2 linked regions of the Homo sapiens genome follow. The protein of the gene in region 2 binds, or shares a complex with, the protein of the main gene of each other region. Each region holds a gene or a part of one and is shown on either strand. Other genes may lie near its edges. A codon is read from its position in the direction of its gene.

Region 1 (10,403 bases), on a different chromosome or scaffold from region 2:
GTCCGGAGGCGGAGCCTTGGGCGAGGGGTGGTTGCGGCGGAGGACGCAACCGAGCGGTGAGGCGCGTGGGCCTTCGGGGGTCGAGGTCGTGGTAGTGGGGCGCGGGGAGGCCAAGACCCGGCCGAGGGGGGCGGGCGGGCCAGGGAGCAGCCCAGCCCGGGGCGTGCGCGACCTGGGCTCGCTTCCCAGCCCGACTGTGGCCGCCTGCTCTGGCGCCCCTTCTGGACTCTCGGGCCTGGCGCTCGCGGCCAAAACTGACTTCAAAGTGTGGGGAGGGTTCCTCTTCCCGGGACGCAGCCTTCCCGGGCATTGGCAGACGGTGCCCCGGTTAGACAGAGCCGCTGACCACCCCGCCCACCCCCGAGGCTGGACGCACGGATGCACACCTGGTCCTGGGAGAGACAGGCGCCCCTTCCTTTCCGCACCCCGCCGCCCCCCTCTCCCCCCCGCCGGCTTCAGATGCAGCCACCACTAATCCTGGGAGGGACAGACACACGGACAGGTGCCCCTTCCCCTCCTCACCCTCCTACTGGCTGCAGAACAGCAAATGCAGCCACCACTGACCCTGAGAGGGACAGACACACGGACAGGCGCCCCTTCCCCTCCGCACCCCCCTGCTGGCTTCAGGACGTCAAATGCAGCCACCACTTGACGCTGGGAGGGACAGAAACTTTCCAGCCCAGGCTGGCCCTGGGGCATGGGTAGACATCCCCTTGCACACATGGCTGACCCCGGAACTCAAAGATGCCCCTGACTCTGGCCCACCTGCAGCCTGGGCCAGCACCACGCTGTTGCCCCGACTGCACCAAAGACCAAGGGTGACAGACTTTGAGTTCCGGAGGCCTTGTGGTTTCAGCTAGACCCTCATCTGCCCCTTTCAGCCCCGCCACCAGCGCTCAGGGCCCCACCTAGACCAAAGCTTTGCATCCATCCCTGCAGTACAGACCTCTGGTCTGGGGATCATGGTTCTCCTGGTCTGAGATGAAAGTTCTGGGGCCCCTTCCCAGGCCTGAGCAGGCATGGTGGGCTGCTGTGACTAGAGCGAGCTGGGTCTGGAGTGGGCATTGAGGTTTGGCTCTCACATTGCCTTTGCAGGGCCTGCGGCCTCACCATGGACCCAGAATGCGCCCAGCTGCTCCCGGCTCTCTGTGCTGTTCTGGTAGATCCCAGGCAGCCGGTGGCAGATGACACCTGTTTGGAGAAGCTCCTGGACTGGTTTAAAACGGTCACTGAAGGAGGTAAGGAGGTGGTGCTGCTGTTTACTGCCTATCCAGAGACCAGACGCAGAGGCTGGGACAGGGAGCAGGGGCCAGATGGGGACTCCCCTGTCCTGGAGGAAGGGCAGAAACTGCCAATCAGATGTCTTTCCTTCACTTCCTAAGGATTATCTGTGGCAGACTGAGGGCAAGTTAAGATGAAGCCCGAGAGAATGATCTGGAGAGTTAGAGCCTGAAATTCAGCCAGTTGAGCCACGATCAGGGCACCCCAAGGTTCAGTTCTACAGAAGGCGTGAACAAACTTGTTTTATTGTTGTTCTCGTTGTATTTAGTGTGTTTAAGACATCAGATTTGTTTTCTTTCTGATTATGAAAGTAGGGGCCGGATGCAGTGGCTCATACCTGTAATCCCAGCACTTTGGGAGGCTGAGGCGAGCGGATTGCTTAAGTCCAGGAGTTCAAGACCAGCCTGGTCCAACATAGCGAGACGTCATCTCTAAAAAAAAAAAAAACAAAAATTAGCTGTGCCTGGTGGCGCACCTGTAGTCCCAGCTACTCTGGAGGCTGAGATGGGAGGATCCTTTGAGTCCGGGAGGTAGAGGTTGCAGTGAGCTATGATTGTGCCACTGCACCCTGACCTGGGTGATAGAGTGAGACCCTGTCTCAAAAAAAAAAAACAAAGTAATACATGTTCTTTAAAACATGAACAAAAGAGTAAAGAGGAAAATTAAACCATCAACGTTTTAATTTACTCCCAGCCTTTTCATAACACATAAAGCTGTATTTTTCTGGGGAAAAAAAAATGAGGTCATACTGTAAACACAATTTTGGTGTCTTGCTTTCTCTCTTGCTATCATAGTGAGTGTTTTCTCCACATAATATGTTAATGTTATTGACTACATGTTATTTGCTGTAGGAATAGACCATAATTAATTGAATCACTCCACTGTCAGATGTTTATATTTCTCATTTTTCATCATTTTAAGTAGTGTCATAGGTCAGGCGCGGTGACTCATGCTTGTAATCCCATCACTTTGGGAGGCCAAGGCGGGTAGGTCACTTGAAGTCAGGAGTTCGAAACCAGCCTGGCCAACATGGTGAGACCTCGTCTCTACTAAAAATAAAAAAATTAGCCGGGCATGGTGGCATGCGCCGTAATCCCAGCTACTTGGGAGACTGAGGGGGAGGATCGCTTGAACCCAGGAAGCGGAGGTTGCAGTGAGCCCAGATCGTGCCACTGCACTCCAGCGACAGAATGGACTCTGTCTCAAAAAAATAGTGTCAGTCGAGCGCGGTGGCTCAAGCCTGTAATCCCAGCACTTTGGGAGACCGAGGCAGGCAGATCACGAGGTCTGGAGATCAAGACCCTCCTGGCTAACATGGTGAAACCCCGTCTCTACTAAAAATACAAAAAAAAAAAAAATAGCCAGACGTGGTGGTGGGCGCCTGTAGTCCCAGTTACTTGGGAGGCTGGGCAGGAGAATGGCGTGAACACAGGAGGCAGAGCTTGCAGTGAGCCGAGATCACGCCACTGCACTGCAGCCTGGGCGACAGAGCGAGATTCCGTCTCAAAAAAAAAAAAATAGTGTCATAATGGCTTTCCTTTTACATAAATATTCTCGCATGTAAATGTTTATTCTCATGGTTGATAATTGCATTGGGATAGACTGCATGTTGTTAATTTCTGCTATTCTTTACTTCCTTTTTTTGGTTTACCGTGTTCTTTTATTCTTTTTATTTTTAAATTATATTGTATTTTTTTTTTTAAGGATGGGGTCTCACCGTATTGCCCAAGCTGTTTTCGATCTCCTGGGCTCAGGCAGTCACCTGCCTCTGCTTCCCAAAGTGCCTTTTACCCTCTTTGAGCTAAATATCTAGGTCTTCCTTGTTTTCTAATATATATATTTAAGGCCAGGCACGGTGGTTCATGCCTATAATCCCAGCACTTTGGGAGGCTGAGGCAGGCAGATCACTTGAGGTCAGGAGTTGGAGACCAGCCTGGCTAACATGGTGAAACCCCGTCTCTACTAAAAATACAAGAATTAGCCTGACATGGTGGTCCATGCCTGTAATCCCAGCTACTCGGGAGGCTGAAGCAGGAGAATCACTTGAACCTGGGAGGCAGAGGTTGCAGTGAGCCGAGATAACGCCATTGCACTCCAGCCAGGGCAATGGAGTGAGACTCTTGTCTCAAAAAAAAAAAAAAAAAAAAAAAAAAAATATATATATATATATATATATATATTTAAGACTATGCATTTCTCTAAAAGTATGACTTTAGCTACATCTTACACGTTTTACATTGCAGTACTTTGGTTTTAATTTAGTTCTGAGTATTTTATGCTTTTCATTATAATTTTTTTTTCACCCACAAGTTACTTAAAAGAGTATCCTTTAGTTTCAAAATATGGATTTTTCCAGTCTTTTTATTATTGATTTTTAATTTACTTTGTGGAGGTTAGAAAACATAACATATGTTTTGAATCTTTATAGCTGTTGAGACTTTTATTGAGACATAGGACCCAGGCGAGTTTTCTCAATGTTCTAGAGATTTCACTATATGATTTTGATGTTTTGGTATTTGAAGGTCTTCAACTGTGGCCTAGTTTGTAGTAGTCAGTTTTTCTTTTTCTTTTTTTTTTTTTTTGAGCCAGGGTTTTTGCGCGTCACCCAGGATGGAGTGCAATGGCGTGAACACGGCTCACTGCAGCCTTGACCTCCTGGGCAGTCCGCCTGCCTCATTCTCTTGAGTTCCTGGGATCAAGGTGTGTACCAGGCCCAGCTATTTTTTTTTTTCCCATAGAGATGAGGTCTCACCATCTTGTCCAGGCCAGCTTGGAACTCCTGGGCTCAAGCAGTCTTCCCGCCTGGGCTTCCCAAAGTGCTGGGATTACAGGAGCGAGCCACCATGCCTGGCCTGTATTTAAATTTTAAGAAGTATTTTTCAGTAGCTTTATTGAGATATAATTTGCATACCATGCCATTCTCCCATTTAAGGTGTACCAGATCCTTTTACAGTTTGTAAGCATGAGATATATATATATCTATATATAGATATATATATAGATATAGATTTTTTTTTTTTTGAGACCAAGTCTTGCTCTGTTGCCCAGGCTGGGGTGCAATGGCACAATCTTGGCTCACTGCAACCTCCGCCTCCTGGGTTTCAAACGATTCTCCTGCCTCAGCCTCCTGAGTACCTGCGATTAAAGGTGCATGCCACCATGCCCGGCCAATTTTTGTATTTTTAGTAGAGGTGGGATTTCATCATGTTGGCCAGGCTGGTCTCGAACTCCTGACCTCAGGTGATCCCTCCACCTTGGCCTCCCAAAGTGCTGGGGTTACAGTGGAGAGCCACTGCACCCAACCTAAGCATGATAATTGAGTGTTCAGGCGCATGTGTGAGATGTGGCACCATGGAACCCTGGTATGATGTCGGTACGTGACCCGTCTGACATGAGAAATGGACAAAATAAATAAATAAATGGTACCAATTCAACAGTTCTTAGTAAATTTACAGGGCTCTGAAATCATCAGCACAATCTAATTTTGTTCCCCCTAAAGAAACCGAGTCTGGGTTCACAGTGAGTCCCTGTTTCCTCCTCCCTCCCAGCCTCTGTCATTTCTCCTGCATTGTACTTGATGGAAAGAGTGTAGTTTCCACACTCGTTCATTAGTTCAGACCTGCTATGTTCTTGCTAATTTGTTTGCTTGTTTCTGAGAGGTGTGTAAAAAGCTTACACCAAGATCATGGATTCATGATTTTTCTTTGAGATGCATCCTTTTTTTTTTTTTCGCTTTACATATTATTTTTTTCTTTTTCTTTTCTTTCTTTTTTTTTTTTTGTTTTTTTTTTTTTGAGATGGAGTCTTGCTCTATTGCCCAGGCTGGAGTGCAGTGGCATGATCTCGGTTCACTGCAGCCTCGACTTCTTGGGCTCAGATGATTCTCTCACCTCAGCCTCCCTAATAGCTGGGACCACAGGAGCCCGCCACCACGCCCGGCTAAGTTTTTGTATTTTTTGTAGTGACGGGGTTTCACTATGTAGCCCAGGCTGGTCTCAAACTCCTGGGCTCAAGCAGTCTGCCCGCCTTGGCCTCTCAAATCGCTGCAATTACAGGTGTGAGGCACTGTGCCTGGCATTTTTTTTTTCTTTTTTTTTTGGAGACAGGGTCTCACTCTGTCACTCAGGCTAGAGTGCAGTGGTGTGATCACGGCTCACTGTAGCCTCAACTTCCTGGGCTCAAGTGATCCTCCCACCCCAGCCTCCTGGATGGCTGGGACTACAGGGACACACCACCACACCCAGCTAATTTTTTGTATTTTTTTGCGGAGACGGGGTTTCACCACGTTGCCCAGGCTGCTTTACACGTTTTGAAGTGAGGTTAGGTATACATAGATGTAGGAATGTTGTGTCTTTCTGGAATTTATCTCCGTGATCAGTTAACTTACTTCTGCATGAATACTGCTTTTTGCTTTACAGCCCATTTTGTTTGCTATTTCTGTTGCTACATCAGCTTCTTTAAAGTTAGAATTTGCCTACTGTGTCTTTTCTCTCCTGCTCCCAGCCTTTCCTGTCGTTGCATTTTATTGCTTTTAGAAACACCACATTGCTTGTTTTTAGTGTTTAATTTAATCTCAGCAACTCTTTCTTTTAACAGATAAGTTTGATCTCTTTAATTTGTTGAGGCGACTGTTAGATTTGAATTCTTTTGTATTTTTTAATTTCCTGTGCCTTACCTTTGTGCCTTTATCCTCCTTTTCTGCCCTCCATCAGATTGATAAAGCTTTTTTTTTTCTTTTAAATCTTTCCTCTTCTGGTTTTGAAGTTATACATTCTATTTATGTTCTTCTTTTTAGACAAGTTCTTGTGCTGTTGTCCAGGACAGTGGTGTAATCACGGCTCACTGCAGCCTTGACCTCCTGGGCTCAGGTGATCTTCCCATCTCAGCTTCCAGTGTAGCTGGGACTATAGATGCGCGCCACCATGCCCAGCGAATTTTTATAGAGAGGGGATCTTCCTGTGTTGCCCAAGCTGGTCTTAAAACTCCTGGGCTCAGGCAATCTGCCCACCTCGGCCTCTCAAGATGCTGGGACCACAGGCTTATTTGTGTTCTTCAGTGGCTACCCTTATATTTTTAACATGAGAACCGGATTTTTTAAAAAGTCTGAAGTTAATTAGACTTTCCATTCTCTATCCAGGCAACCGAAGGACCTCAGAGCACTTGAACTTCAGGCCATCACAACCTTCTATTATTGTCGTTAGTATTTTAATTCTGTTTTGTTTCAAAACCCTTCAACAATGATTTTTTAGATTTTGAACTCAGTGGCATTGTTTTTTGTTTGTTTGTTTGTTTGTTTTTGAGACAGAGTCTTGCCCTGTCACCAGGCTGGAGTGCAGTGGTGCGATCTCGGCTCACCGCAACCTCCACCTCCCGAGTTCAAGCAGTTCTCCTGCCTCAGCCTCCCAAATAGCTGGGACCACAGGCGCCCGCCACCATGCCTGGCTAATTTTTTATATTTTAGTAGAGACAGGGTTTCATTCACCATGTTTGCCAGGATGGTCTCAATCTCCTGACCTCGTGATCTGCCTGCCTTGGCCTTCAAAAGTGCTGGGATTACAGGCGTGAGCCACCACGCCCCGCCTTTTTTTTTTTTAGAGAGACAGGGTCTCCCTCTGTCGCCCAGGCTGGAGTACAGTGGTGCAGTGATAGCTTGCTGCAGCCTCGAACTCCTGGGCTCAAGCAATCCTCCCGTCTCAGCCTCCTGAGTAGCTGGGACTGCAGATGTGTGCCACCATGCCGGGCTAATTTTTTTTTATTTTTTGTAGAGACAGGGTCTTGCTATGTTGTTCTCCTGCCTTGGCCTCCCAAAGTGCTGGGACTACAGGTATGAGCACCTCACCCAGCCTGCAGTGCTGATTCAGGTGGACATAGTGCTTTTTGGGTCCTGGCCTGGTTCTCCTCCTCTGCATGCTCCTCACTCTCCTTACTGAACCACATTCTTTCCACAGGGGCTTCTCACTGGGAAACTCTCCCAACCTTTGCCTCAAAATGTCTTTTTCCCCCACTGGTGCTTTTGAGCGATAGCATAGCTGGTTATAGAAATACAGGATGCCAGTTCTGGAGAGGAATGTTTGTTCCATTGTACCTGCTTGCATGGAGCACTGTCTAAGGAAAAGTACCCATTTGGAAGGTGAAAATGCTCTTCCACTTTTTTTTTTTTTTTTTTTTGGAATGGAGTCTCGCTCTGTCGCCCAGGGCTGGAGTGTGCCGTGTGCAATGACGTGGTCTTGGCTCACTGCAGCCTCTGCCTCCCAGGTTCAAGCGATTCTCCTGCCTCAGCCTTCCAATTAGCTGGGACTACAGGCATGAGCCACCACACCTGGCTAATTTTTTGTATTTTTAGTAGAGATGGGACTTCGCCATGTTGGCCAGGCTGGTCTCGAACTCCTGAGCTCAAGTGACCACCCGCCTTGGCCTCCTAACGTGTTGGGATTACAGGCGTGAGCCACCACGCCCAGCCTGGTCTTTCACTTTAATTTGCATTTCTTTTTCACTATCAGTGAGACAGAACATTTTTTCAGCATTTTTGGCCATTCACCTGTTGTGAAAGGTGACAGTGTTCCGCCTTTCACCTGTTGTTAAGGTGTTGGCTTTCTAGCCCTTACTGAATTAAAATTATGAGTCATTTGCCGTATTTGTTGCAGATATTTTTTTCCCAGTTGGATCCCTAAATCTAACACCCTGCAAGAAAAGGGTCTGGGAATTGCTAGGAGAAGAGCGGTCATCCAGGGGGACACCTGGTGCCGTACCCCTGGTGACCCCTGGGCTGGGCCATCCCCACAGAGTCCAGTGTCGTGCTGCTGCAGGAGCACCCCTGCCTGGTGGAGCTGCTGTCCCATGTGCTGAAAGTCCAGGACCTGAGTTCTGGGGTCCTCTCCTTCTCACTGCGCCTGGCAGGAACCTTCGCAGCCCAGGAAAACTGCTTCCAGTATCTTCAGGTGAGCCTGGGGCCTCCCACCTGAGTGTCCCGTGGAGAGGTGGGCAGGCTTTTCCTCCCGCAGCCAGGTGGGGCATTTGTAGCCATCACCATCCCAAGTCCCAGCGGCCTGCCCCGACCCTGTGTCCTCACTAGAACTGCATGTTTTTTACCCCCGACTGTAGCCCCCTTTGAAAAATTCGCCCGGAGTGATGCTGGGGCTAAGGAGTTGAGGTTTTTTGGAATAAGATGACTGGCACGGGCTCCCAGCTCTGACCAGCTGTCTGAGCTTGCCCACGGCCGCAAGCCTCCATCTCTTCCTGGGACGGAGACAGGAGTCGCAGCTGCGCCGTGGCCTCCGTCTCTTCCTGGGACGGAGACAGGAGTCGTAGCTGCCCCGTGGCCCCCGTCTCTTCCTGGGACGGAGACAGGAGTCGTAGCTGCGCCGTGGGGTTGTCGTGAGGACCAAATGAGACCGCACATCCTGCACCTCCAGCGACCCAGCCTACAAATGAATGAATAACTAATGAGAATGTGAATGACTAATGAGAATGTCTTTTTTTTAAAAAATTAATTTTATTTATTTTTATTTTATTTTATTATTATTTTTCGAGACAGAGTCTTGCTCTGTCACCCAGGCTGGAGTGCAATGGTTCGAACTCAGCTAACTGCAGTCTCCACCTCCCAGGTTCAAGCGATTCTCCTGCCTCAGCCTCCCGAGTATCTGGGACTACAGGCACCTGCCACCACGCCCAGCTAATTTTTGTAGTTTTAGTAGAGACAGGATTTCACCATTTTGGCCAGGCTGATCACGAACTCCTTGACCTCAAGTGATCCGTCTGCCTCGGCCTCCCAAAATGCTAGGATTACAGGCGTGAGCCACCATACCCGGCCTTTTTTTGTTTTGTTTTTTAGAGACAGAGTCCTGCTCTGTCGTCCAGGCTGGAGTGCAGTGGCAGCTCACTGCAGCCTTGACCTCCTGGGCTCAAGTGACCCTCCCCATTCAGCTTCCCGAGTAGCTGGGTCCACAGGTGCATGAACCACACCTGGCTAACTTTGTTATCTTTGGTAGAGATGGGGTCTCACTATGTTGCCCAGGCTGGTCTCAAACTCCTGGTCTCAAGCGATCATCCTGCCTCGGCCTCCCAAAGTGTTGGGATACAGTCGTGAGCCACTGCTCCCAGCCAAGAATTTCTACATAGCAAGGCATGAGAGCTCGAGAGCCTCCCAGAGCTGTGTCTTCCAGCTTCAAGTGCCTCAGACAGGCACCGCTGAGTCTGTCGGGATGCGTGGTGTGAGCTTCAGGGCCCTTGCCCGTCTACCACGACGGCTTCTCTTGGTGCCTCACAGGCCCTCGCCAGGTTGTGCGAAGGCACATCCAGTACCGTTAGCTTGCCGTTCACGATGCCCCCCAGTTAAGCAGCTGCAGGCTCCCTAGCAGCCCACCCAGGCACCATCTTGCTGCAGGACAGACTTTCCAAGGTGTCCTAGGGTGCTGCCGTACAGTGAATCCGGGGGCCCTTGTCTGTCAGCAGCTGGTATGAAAGTACCCTCCAGGCTGGGCACGGTGGCTCATGCCTATAATCCCAGCACTTTGGGAGGCTGAGGCAGGCGGATCACCTGAGGTCAGGAGTTCGAGACCAGGCTAACCAACATGGTAAAGCCCTGTCTCTACTAAAAATGAAAAAATTAGCTGGGTGTGGTGGTGGGCACCTGTAATGCCAGCTACTCAGGAGGCTGAGACAGGAAAATAGCTTGAGCCCAGGAGGCAGAGGTTGCAGTGAGCCGAGATGTGCCACTGCACTCCAGCCTAGGCAACAGAGTGGGACTGTCTCAAAAAAAAAAAAAAGAAGAAGAAAGTGTCCTCCAGAAGTATCTCCACCAGCCCTGGAAAACTGAAAACCCATCTCTGCTTTGCTCCACATCCCTGGAAACCTACCAGGTCCCCTCACCTCTTTTTTTTTTTTTTTTTTTTTTTTTTTGAGATGGAGTCTCGCTGTGTCACCCAGGCTGGTGTGCAGTGGTGCGATCTTGGCTCACTGCAACCTTCGCCTCCCGGGTTCAAGCAATTCTCCTGCCTCAGCCTTCTTAGTAGCTGGGATTACAGGTGCATGCCACCACACCCAGCAAATTTTTGTATTTCTAGTAGAGATGGGGTTTCACCATGTTGGTCAGGCTGGTCTCGAACTCCTGACCTCGTGATCTG
Region 2 (11,256 bases):
TGAGCTGCTGAACCCTAAAGGCTGGGGTCAGGGCAGACTCGGGACTCTGGAATCGCCAACAAGACAGTGGGGTTTAAAGATCCTGAGACAGTGAAGGCATCAGAGAGGGTGAAGCCTGGAGGGCCGGGTTCAGAAAGTAGGGTTCAGAGGGCAGGGCCGGAAGAACAGACAGAGACCAGGCCATGTGTGTGACCAGTAAGGCAGGCAGGGAGCAGATCCTGGGGCCTAGAAGCCCCCTGAGGATCAAGGATGGCACAGGCCCCTTGCCAAACGCTGCCGAGACCAAGCAAGGTGGCCCAAGCCCCACAGGCACAGACATGGGACCCTCAAGGCCCCCAACAGGAACCCACCTAATGATCACACAGTCCAGGAAGTCTGTTAGGCGGCCGTTCTGGGTGATGTAGGAGAAGTCAGGGAAGCGTCGCTAGGAAGGATGTGGGGGTTTCAGGTTGCACAGTGGTCTCCAGGCAGCATCTGGGGCCACCCATGCCCCAGGGAGGGGCCCCCAGGAAGGGGGGTTCTATGTGCAGACTCAGGCTGGGCACTCCCATCCCGCAGGTGGCACCAGGACCCCTGGCTGCTCACAGCATCCGGAGGGGCCGAGGTTACCCCCAACCTCACTGACAGATGTGAGCTGGAAGCTGAGCCCAGGGTCTCACGGAGTCCAGCCTACAGGACCCCGGGGCTGGGGCTCAGCGCCAGCACAGGGGGACCCCACCATGCAGGGGCTCACCTCGGCCAGGCCCACCCATCCCTGCTCCCCACAGGGTGCAGCCATCCAAGCACAACCACTGCTGCCCACCACCCCACTGTCCCGGCTCTGAGGCCCAGGGTCCAGCTGTGGATGGCCGGCTCTCCCAGCCTCTGGGCCTCCTGCCCAAGGGACTCACGTCGTCATTGAAGCCCATGTGCATTCCACAGTCCAGCATGACATTCTTGCCCGCAATGGAGACCAGGATGCAGCTTCGGCCCACGTCCTGGCCGGCCCCTACTCGAGGGAGGGCAGATGAGTCACTGCTGCGCCCCCCGCCCCCTGTGCTGCCTCCCCAAGCTCTGCAGGACCCCAGTGCACTGAGGAAACCGGACCAAGTCTGCTGTGTGGACAGACACATGGGCCAAGAAGCAGGGCCACCCCTACTCACAGGAAGGGGGACACAGGGGACCATGCCCCACACCATCATGTCCAGGGTGGAGGCTGGCAGCCCACACGCCCTCCCCCGCCAGCTTCCCCTGGCCTCTTAAGGTGGCCACGGCCTGCTGGCTAAGTAGTGGGCACTGTGCTGTGGCCCTCAGCCTCCAACAGAGACAACGGCTGGTCTGTGGGGCCAACACCTCGGTCAGAGTCACTCCTGGGCTGTGGCTGGACCCCCAGCAGAGCTGCAAACCAATGAGGCCACCTTCTCCAGGATCTTTCCCCAGGCAGGCAAGGCAGTAAGTGACTAAGTGCTGGCACTGGGTGTTCTCTGGTGGTGCGGCTGTGGAGGGGCGCCACACAGCCTCAGCCATGCCATAGCGAACACGGTGCCAGTGGTCCAGCAGTGGCCAGCGTGGCAACACGAGCCTCACACCACTGCACACCATGCAGCCCCCAACACAGACCCTCATCTGCAGCCCTCCCACACTCCTGACAGCCAAGCAGCCCTGCCCAGCTGCTCCAGCCAGAGGCCTTGGCCAGCCAAGGCACACTCAGCCCCCTCATGTGGCCTGGGGGCCCGAGAGGAAAGGGTCACGGCCCCTGCACAGACTGTGCCTGGGCAGGAGTCTGATGGCAGTGAACAGTTTTCCCCTTGAATCCCACCCACCTCCCCCTGCCAGCCACTCGAAGTGTCCAAAGCCAGCACCACACATCAGGATGACGGGGCCACAGCCGAGGGGCTGCCTGCCACAGAGAGGGGATCTCAGGTTCTCTTCCAGGCCTGTTCCTGCCCCCGCTGGGTGTGAGCTCTCTGAGAGCAGGGTCTCAGCTGTCTCCTCCCTCTGCATCTCCTACCCCAAGCCACGCCAGGCTCACAGAGGCCCTCTGGCACCTGTGGGAAGGGAGGGCCGCCCCTCTTCATGCCCAGGGACCTAAGGCCACAGAGGCACTTGTGGCACACGGCCCCGAGGCATGGGGCCCGGGCTGGTTTTCTGAATTCCAAAGCCCAGTCCTGAAGTACTGGCAGTCCCGCCTCCCGACAGGACCCACAGTGATCCCAGGAAGGAAAGTGGAAAGGTGCGGGAATAGAGCCTGGAGATACACGAGGGGACAGGGCTCAGAAGACAGGAGGAGATATCCCTGTCAGCAAGGAGACAGACGGCAGACAAACAAGACACCCAAAGCACGCCAGACGAAGGTTACTATGACAGAAAAGAGCAAGGTGAGAGAATGAGGAAGCCTCAAAACTTCCAGAACCATGACAGGAGACTGCTCCGAGAAGCCAACTTTTGAGCAGGGGAGGGGAGGGGTAGGGTGGGGGAGGGGGAGGGACGGGGTGGGGAAGGGATGGTCCAGGGGAGGAGAAGAAGCGGGGCGGGCGGAGGGAGGACAGGCAGCAGGGAGGGACAGGCAGGGGGGAGGGAAGGGACCAGCAGGGGGAGGGACGGGCAGGGTGGGTGGGGGGACCGGCGGTGGGGAGGGATGGGCAGGGTGGGTAGGGGGACCGGCGGCGGGGGGGGTAGCCACACACAGGCCAAGGCGTGGGAGTGACCCCAAGGACACAGCAGTGGTCCAGTGAGCGCGGACACGGAGCCCGAGGCAGTCCCTGGTGCAGGGAAGCGGTGAAACAGGACTTCGGCTTTGATGATACCTTGGCTGAGGTGACCTTGAGAATATACCCAGGTACAGATTGCGGGTAATTGAAGCCACATGAAAGATCAGAAAGATCAGATGTCCAGAGAGTGGGCAGAACAGGCAGCCAAGAGGCCAAATGGGAAAGGGGCAGGCTGGGAGGACCCCACGGAGGACCCAGAGAGCAGGGGAGGGCAGTGGGGCCCATGCAAACAGCTGCAAAATGCCATGGGGTGTGCACAGGCCAGGGGTGTTCACAGCACAGTGTCCACACCGGGGCGGGGGGCACCCTCCGAGGAAGCGCTCACGCCATGGGGGAGGACATGGAATCCCGTCCTGGTGTCTGTGCTGGAAGGTGCCCTCGACCCCCTGCCCGGTGGAAGGACCAGGTTCCAGGACAGCACAGGGCAGGCACCTGTGGAAAACGCTAAGGACATCAGGATGACTGGCCACCAACACCATGTCCCTCCAGCTGTTTCTGAGACCCTGGATTTTGACTAATTTTTTCCTTCTTCACATCGTTCTATACTGTTACGACTTTGACTTTCTTTTGAGACATGGTTTTGCTGTCACCCAGGCTGGAGTGCAGTGGCACAATCATGGCTCACTGCAGCCTCAACCTCCTGGGCTCAAGCAATCCTCACAACTCAGCCTCCCAAGTAGCTTGAACCACAGGCACACACCACCACGCCCTGCCAATTTTAGCATTTTTTTTTTTTGGAGTGATGGGGTCTTGCCATGTTGGCTAGGTTGGTCTTGAACTCCTGGGCTCAAGCGATCCTCCCACCTCTGCCTTCCAAAGTGCTGTGATTGCAGGCGTGAGCCACAGTGCCCAGACTGTCAGGACTTTTAGGAGTACATATTTGCGTTTTTTGCTATTTTTTTCAGTGTTGCAGAAATCAGGTAGAACAAGAGCTAAAGTGAGAGTTGATTGTAACTCGGGCGTGAGCACACAGAGTGGTGGACAGAAAGCAAGACGTGAGGAGGCAGAAGCGGGGCTGGGGGGCTGAGGGGCTTGCGGGGTTAAGGGGCTTGGGGGCTGGGGGACTGGGGGGCTGAGGGGCTGGGGGGCTGAGGGTCTGGGGGTCTGCTGGGCTGAGGGGCTGGGGGACTGAGGGGCTGGGGGACTGAGGGTCTGCTGGGCTGAGGGTCTGGGGGACTGGAGCGCTGGGGGGCTGGGGGGCTGAGGGACTGAGGGGCTGAGGGGCTGGGAGGCTGAGAGGCTGGGGAGCTGGGGGGCTGAGGGTCTGCGGGGCTGAGGGGCTGGGGGGCTGGGGGGCTGAGGGGCTGGGGGGCTGAGGGGCTGGGAGGCTGAGAGGCTGGGGAGCTGGGGGGCTGAGGGTCTGCGGGGCTGAGGGGCTAAGGGACTGAAGGGCTGGTAGGGCTGGAGGCGGCAGCGCGCGGCACGGGGAGGTCAAGGCACCGACGAAAGCGCACAGCGAGCGCGAAGGCCCCGCGGCCCCATCTGCGACGTCCCCTCACGGCCGCCTGAACCTCGGGGCTCGCGTTCTCGCGTCACTGCCGGAGGCCCGGGGTGCAGGGACTAGGCCGCCTCTCGGCTCCCACCAGGGCCCGCGCGGGGAGGAGACCGGAGGACGCCCGCGGCGCGCACCTGGCTCCACGAGAAACGGGAGGGAGCGGGGCGCCCAGCCCGCCCGGAGCCGCATACGGAGCCCACCCCACAGCCCTCCCGGCGGCTCCCACTCACCCAAGGGCGTGACTCTGATCTCAGGCATCGTCTCCGCCGCGCTCCCGGACCCGCGAGGCCCGCCTGCGGTGATGCACTGCGCAGGCGCAACCACCTCGCTGCAACTTCCGGTGCGCTAGCCGGAAACGCGGGTCGGGGCGCCGGGCCTCCTGATTGGGCAGCATCCAACCAATCAGGGCGGCGGGCGAGGGCGGGGCGAGGGCGGGGCGGTGGGCGGGGACGGGGCCCGCACGGCGGCTACGGCCTAGGTGAGCGGCTCGGACTCGGCGGCCGCACCTGCCCAACCCAACCCGCACGGTCCGGAAGTCGCCGAGGGGCCGGGAGCGGGAGGGGACGTCGTCCTAGAGGGCCGGAGCGGGCGGGCGGCCGAGGACCCGGCTCCCGCGCAGGACGGAGCCGTGGCTCAGGTCGGCCCCTCCCCAACACCACCCCGGGCCTCCGCCCCTTCCTGGGCCTCTCGGTGGAGCAGGGACCCGAACCGGTGCCCATCCAGTCCGGTGCCATCTGAAGCCCCCTTCCCAGGTGAGACTCGTAGCGCTCGCTCGACAGGGTCTGGTCCCACCCACAAGGCCTGGGGCGCCGTGGGGCCCCGTCTCCTGCTGGCCCCCCAGCCTGCTGTCAGCCCCCGTGCTCTGTGCTCAGGCCGCCCTCGCGCCCGGCCCTGACCTTGGGCCGTTGGGCTGCCCTGGGAAAGGCCTGGAGGTGTCCTGGGTCACCTTCCTGGGCTGGCAAGCTGCCTGCCTCCTGCACAGCCACTGCCCTTCCTGTTGTTACCGAGCCACCAGCCACAGCTCTGAGAAGCTCCTGGCAGCTTCTGTTTGCCACTGGCTCGAATCTGGGCAGGAAGGCAAGGCCCGCAGAATATCTGGTGACCAAGAAGGAAACCCCAGAGCCTCAGAGACCATCTTCTCAGTGGACAAAATTAAGGCCCGAGGAGGGGAGGGGCGTGCTGGAAGTCTATGGGACTGCATCTTTCTGAGGCCCAGGAGCAGCCATCCCCCACACCTGAAGCCCGGTGAGCTCACATCTGGGGCCTCCGCCTGGTGCCAAGCATGCAACCCAACCTGTGGGGCCTGCAACGCCAGGCTTCAGCACCCTGCAGGCACCAGTGCTCCAGCAGCCTGGGCCACGGGCTGGGCAGGGCTTGCAGCCCATGATCCCTAGTGATGAAGGGCCCAGTCCTAGGGTGCTGAGCAACCTGCCCACCTGCTCCTGGCCAGGAGCTCTCACCACGGCTGGGTGCCCTTCCCCCTCCCCCACCGATGGAGTCCCTGCAGCCAGGGAGGCCAGGACAGGGCTCCCAGCACCAACCGGCCTAGGAACCCCCAGGCCCTCTTCCTGGTCGAGGTGGAATGCAGCTGACTCTCAGGTTCCCCAGAGCAGGTGCGGGCCCGTGGGGCACCCGGGGAGACAGGGCAAGGGTGCTTGGCAACACTCACACAAAGCATGGGTGCCTGGATGTCTGTGGATCTGTGGAGTGACTATGTGAATGCCAGCAGAATCCAAAGCAGGGCCTGGGCCACTCGTGGAAGGCTCCCTAGGGCTAGTACAAGAGCCTCGTGGCAATCTTCTGAGTGGTAAAACCCATCTGTGTGGGACATGGAGTTTCAGCAACAGGAGTGAAAACACGTGTCCATCCATCCAGCAAGTGCCAGCCCTACAGCCTCTTTTCTGCTTTTGGGGATGTAGCAGTGAGGAAGATGGGGCAGCCTGCCCGGCAGCATCCCCCCACCCCCGGCCCCACCTGTCTCTGCTTTCTGCTGTGTCTGTTTTCTTGTCTAGGACTTCAGAACTTCCTGTCTTTGTTGTCATCTGACCCCACCCCAGATGGCTGCTCGCACTCCCCATGCACCCAGATAGATGGCTAGGATGGTGCTTGGCTCTCGGCAGGGGCTTAGTATTTCTCCAGCTGGTAAAAGCAGATACAGCATCTAGAGAGAGAAACAAAAACAAGAAAGCACCAGCAGAGACACCTGCTGCAGACAGCGGGGCCTAGTGGTCTGATAAAGCCAGAGGGGGCCACTCTCGGGGTCAGGGACTGACACGGAGTCAGTGGCCTGATCCACAGGAGGGGCTGTGCCAAGGTCCCTGAATGCGCAATCCTGATGAAGGGTGGGTCAGGGTGGTGTGCCTGAGAGCCTGCGGCTTGGCTGGGAGCAGAGCCAGGCAGCTCCTGGGAGGAAGCTCCATGAGGGGCATGAGTGTTCAGTGAGCGGCAATGGGATCGCAGCTATTTTGTTCCCCTCCACACACAGAAAATGAGCCACAGAGCAAGCTGACCCCAGCGACACAGCCCCCCAGCCCTACTGTATTTCCGTTCCTATCAAAAAATGGATGACTCGGAGACAGGTTTCAATCTGAAAGTCGTCCTGGTCAGTTTCAAGCAGTGTCTCGATGAGAAGGAAGAGGTCTTGCTGGACCCCTACATTGCCAGCTGGAAGGGCCTGGTCAGGTGCGTGTGCCAGGGCTGCCTCCTGAGGTGGGCGCTCCCCTGGCCCGAGTCCCATATGTGGCATCTGCCTCCCGACTGCCTGTCCCCACCAGCTTTGCTGCCCGTTTCCAGATGGGTGTGAGCCCCCGCAGGCTGGGCAGCGTCCCCTGCACCCCAGGCGGGCTGCCCCAGGCCTGGGCGAGGACTCGAGCCCCGCTCCCTTCCACAGGTTTCTGAACAGCCTGGGCACCATCTTCTCATTCATCTCCAAGGACGTGGTCTCCAAGCTGCGGATCATGGAGCGCCTCAGGGGCGGCCCGCAGAGCGAGCACTACCGCAGCCTGCAGGCCATGGTGGCCCACGAGCTGAGCAACCGGCTGGTGGACCTGGAGCGCCGCTCCCACCACCCGGAGTCTGGCTGCCGGACGGTGCTGCGCCTGCACCGCGCCCTGCACTGGCTGCAGCTGTTCCTGGAGGGCCTGCGTACCAGCCCCGAGGACGCACGCACCTCCGCGCTCTGCGCCGACTCCTACAACGCCTCGCTGGCCGCCTACCACCCCTGGGTCGTGCGCCGCGCCGTCACCGTGGCCTTCTGCACGCTGCCCACACGCGAGGTCTTCCTGGAGGCCATGAACGTGGGGCCCCCGGAGCAGGCCGTGCAGATGCTAGGCGAGGCCCTCCCCTTCATCCAGCGTGTCTACAACGTCTCCCAGAAGCTCTACGCCGAGCACTCCCTGCTGGACCTGCCCTAGGGGCGGGAAGCCAGGGCCGCACCGGCTTTCCTGCTGCAGATCTGGGCTGCGGTGGCCAGGGCCGTGAGTCCCGTGGCAGAGCCTTCTGGGCGCTGCGGGAACAGGAGATCCTCTGTCGCCCCTGTGAGCTGAGCTGGTTAGGAACCACAGACTGTGACAGAGAAGGTGGCGACCAGCCCAGAAGAGGCCCACCCTCTCGGTCCGGAACAAGACGCCTCGGCCACGGCTCCCCCTCGGCCTATTACACGCGTGCGCAGCCAGGCCTCGCCAGGGTGCGGTGCAGAGCAGAGCAGGCAGGGGTGGGGGCCGGGCCTGCAAGAGCCCGAAAGGTCGCCACCCCCTAGCCTGTGGGGTGCATCTGCGAACCAGGGTGAAGTCACAGGTCCCGGGGTGTGGAGGCTCCATCCTTTCTCCTTTCTGCCAGCCGATGTGTCCTCATCTCAGGCCCGTGCCTGGGACCCCGTGTCTGCCCAGGTGGGCAGCCTTGAGCCCAGGGGACTCAGTGCCCTCCATGCCCTGGCTGGCAGAAACCCTCAACAGCAGTCTGGGCACTGTGGGGCTCTCCCCGCCTCTCCTGCCTTGTTTGCCCCTCAGCGTGCCAGGCAGACTGGGGGCAGGACAGCCGGAAGCTGAGACCAAGGCTCCTCACAGAAGGGCCCAGGAAGTCCCCGCCCTTGGGACAGCCTCCTCCGTAGCCCCTGCACGGCACCAGTTCCCCGAGGGACGCAGCAGGCCGCCTCCCGCAGCGGCCGTGGGTCTGCACAGCCCAGCCCAGCCCAAGGCCCCCAGGAGCTGGGACTCTGCTACACCCAGTGAAATGCTGTGTCCCTTCTCCCCCGTGCCCCTTGATGCCCCCTCCCCACAGTGCTCAGGAGACCCGTGGGGCACGGAACAGGAGGGTCTGGACCCTGTGGCCCAGCCAAAGGCTACCAGACAGCCACAACCAGCCCAGCCACCATCCAGTGCCTGGGGCCTGGCCACTGGCTCTTCACAGTGGACCCCAGCACCTCGGGGTGGCAGAGGGACGGCCCCCACGGCCCAGCAGACATGCGAGCTTCCAGAGTGCAATCTATGTGATGTCTTCCAACGTTAATAAATCACACAGCCTCCCAGGAGGGAGACGCTGGGGTGCACTGGGTGCCTGATTTCCTGCAGGGGGACACAGGGGCACCCAGTGAGGGTGGGGAGGGCCCTCACCCCAGGGACACAGCTGAGGTGGGTGCACCTAACTCCAAGGGAGCTGAGGCCCCACTGCCAGGCTCAGGGGGCTGTGTTAGCCCCAGGGCTCAACAAACACCCTGAGAAAAGGCCAGCCTTGGAGGCAGGGCTGCTGTGTGCCCATTCTCCCAGAGAGGTCCCATCACTATGCCTGTTGTACAGGTGAGACAAGAGAGAGACAGAGTCACCCAGAACCAAGAGGCTGGGTTGGGAGGACGGTTGGGAGGGCAGACATCCGCCTCTCCATGCAAAAGAGGAGAGGCCTGCGTGGGATGTGTGCGTGGAGGTGGGGGCCACTCCCAGCCACAACAGTGGCCTGGACAGAAAGGGGATGCAATTCAGCAGAGTCTTCCTGGATGTCACCCCCACCTCAGGGTCTGTGGGAGCTGCATATGGTGCCGGCAAAGGCTGCCGACTGCAGTATGGGCCGGGAGAACTGCCTGGGTCTGCGTGGGCCCCAGGGCAGGGCTCCCTCCGGGTGTTGCCTTCTGTACAAGTGCCATGCTTGTGCCGTTTGCGTGTCCCAAGTGCGAGTGTGCTATTTGCGTGTGCCGCACGTGTGCCGTTTGCATGTGCTGTTTGCATGTACCATGTGCATGTGTGCCATCTGTGCAATGTGCAGGTGCCAGTTGCATGTGCCATGCGTGTTGGCCGTGAGCGTGTGCTGTTTTCGTGTATGTGCCATGCACGTATGTGCTGCGTGTTGGCCGTGCACGTGTGCCACGTGCATGTGTGCCATTTGTGTATGCCGTGTGTGCTGTGAGCGTATGCTGTGCGCATGTGCGTGCCATGTGCTTTGCGTGTACCATGTGTGTGCTGTTTGCATGTGCCATTTGTGTCATGCACGTGCCATTTGCGTGCGATGCGCGTGTGCCACACGTCGTTTGCTTGCGTGCCATGCATGTGTGGCATTTGTGTATGTGCCGTTTCCGTGTGTATTGTGTGTGCCGTGTGTGTGCCATTTGCATGTGCCGTTTTGTGTGTGCCATGCGCGTGTGCCATGCACTTGCCGTGCGTGTGCCATTTGTGTGTACCATGCGCATGTGCCATTCGTGTGCACCGTACACGTGTGCCATTTGCATGTATGCTGTGCACGTGTGGCATGCATGTGTGCCGTTTGCATGCCATGCATGTGTTCCTTGCGTGTGCCGTGCGTGTCCCATGCACGTGTGCCGTGCATGTGCCATTCGCGTGTACCATGCGCATGTGCCGTTTGTGTGTGTGCCGCATTCCTGTGCTCGTGTGCCAGGTTCGCATGTGCGCCATATTCACGTGTGCTCAGCATGTGCCATATGCATGTGCGGTGGTAGTGTGTGTCCCTCACAGGTCCTCCTCACAACACCATGGGGAAGAAGCACCAGCCAGGGCACACCTCCTGGTATCTGCTAGGTCTGCCAGGCCCTAGCTGAAGCTGAGTGCCCCCCAGTTCCCCTGGGAGGGCCTGCGCCTGGAGTCTGCTGTGTCCCCGAGGGCACCCCCAAAGCAACACAGAGGCAGAGGAGTCCCGGCCCTGCACACCTGGTGCTGCTCCAGCTGCCGCTCATTTGCCTGTGGCCCTTCCTCCCTTGTTTGCGTGCCCCCCTGGCAAACAAACTCTACCCCCAGCAGGAGCCACCTGTGTGCCTGCCACGCAGGAGTGGCCCAGACGGGGGTCAGCAGTGTGAGTACAGCTGGCCATGCGGTTCCTACAGCTTCCAGGCGTCAGACTCTGGCAGAAGGGCTGAGACCCTCAAGGAACTCTGCTCCCAAGCAGACTGGGAGGGCAGCACCACCACCCCAGGGCCCTCCCCAGCTGCAGGGTGGAGGCCTGGCTGGCCGGCTGCCCACTGGCCTGACTGGTCTGCAGGCCTAGGGGGCCCATCCCTGCTGCCCCCGGCTCCGGCCAGCACAGCCTTGAGTGGGAGCCAGAAGCTCCCGGGGCTGGGTAGGAGGCATTTCTGTGCTTATGAAAAGCCCCAGGGCTGGGTGTCTCTGCATCCCTCCCACGCAGCTGAGACCTCAGAGCCCTGGAGGCCCCTTTGCCCCCTCTCCTCTCCACAGCCTGCTGGGCAACTCCAGGAATCGGGGGGTGGCAAGGGGCTCAGCCACAGGCAGGGAACAAGGCCACGGCCAGCAACTGAGCAGAGCCTGCCTGCCGGTCAACGCTGGCCATAGAGCCTGGCAGTGGCCTCAGGCAGAGTCTGACGCGCACAAACTTTCAGGCCCAGGAAGCGAGGACACCACTGGGGCCCCAGGGTGTGGCAAGTGAGGATGGCAAGGGTTTTGCTAAACAAATCCTCTGCCCGCTCCCCGCCCCGGGCTCACTCCATGTGAGGCCCCAGTCGGGGCAGCCACCTGCCGTGCCTGTTGGAAGTTGCCTCTGCCATGCTGGGCCCTGCTG

Evidence for each region.
Region 1: the proteins of INTS11 (region 2) and BRAT1 are in contact, whole or in part, in a cryo-EM structure (PDB 8UIB), measured with the Homo sapiens proteins. Residues at the interface, in NP_060341.2 of Homo sapiens: Leu9 (codon at 4,479), Val15, Gly16, Lys27, Met35, His36, Met37, Gly38, Phe39, Arg43, Asp47, Tyr50, Thr58, Asp59, Asp62, His70, Leu71, Asp72, His73, Asp87, Gly88, Gln97, Pro101, Ile102, Glu105, Arg108, Lys109, Val112, Asp113, Lys114; in NP_689956.2 of Homo sapiens: Asp25, Thr27, Cys28, Glu30, Lys31, Asp34, Pro117, Ser156, Ser157, Leu158, Phe159, Ser162, Lys358, Ser359, Cys366, Arg367, Arg424, Arg427, Thr465, Lys468, Lys469, Trp514, Glu515, Asp518, Ser519, Glu522, Tyr560, Ser564, Ser604, Glu605.

The regions. Positions count from the first base shown.
Region 1 is NC_000007.14:2,545,140-2,555,542, reverse strand, and holds the start of BRAT1 (integrator complex assembly factor BRAT1), read left to right. Parts: upstream 1-18; 5' UTR 19-56; exon of another isoform or gene 57-502; intron 503-1,095; 5' UTR 1,096-1,111; coding exon 1,112-1,238; intron 1,239-4,577; exon of another isoform or gene 4,578-4,673; intron 4,674-6,418; exon of another isoform or gene 6,419-6,477; intron 6,478-8,064; coding exon 8,065-8,219; intron 8,220-10,403. UniProt on the Homo sapiens protein: Component of a multiprotein complex required for the assembly of the RNA endonuclease module of the integrator complex.
Region 2 is NC_000001.11:1,320,106-1,331,361, forward strand, and holds the start of INTS11 (integrator complex subunit 11), read right to left. Parts: upstream 4,556-11,256; 5' UTR 4,504-4,555; coding exon 4,476-4,503; intron 3,183-4,475; coding exon of another isoform or gene 3,072-3,182; exon of another isoform or gene 2,787-3,071; intron 1,880-2,786; coding exon of another isoform or gene 1,803-1,879; intron 989-1,802; coding exon 891-988; intron 425-890; coding exon 351-424; intron 1-350. Other genes in the region: CPTP (ceramide-1-phosphate transfer protein), read left to right, coding at 6,806-6,927, 7,136-7,658; TAS1R3 (taste receptor type 1 member 3), read left to right, coding at 11,241-11,256.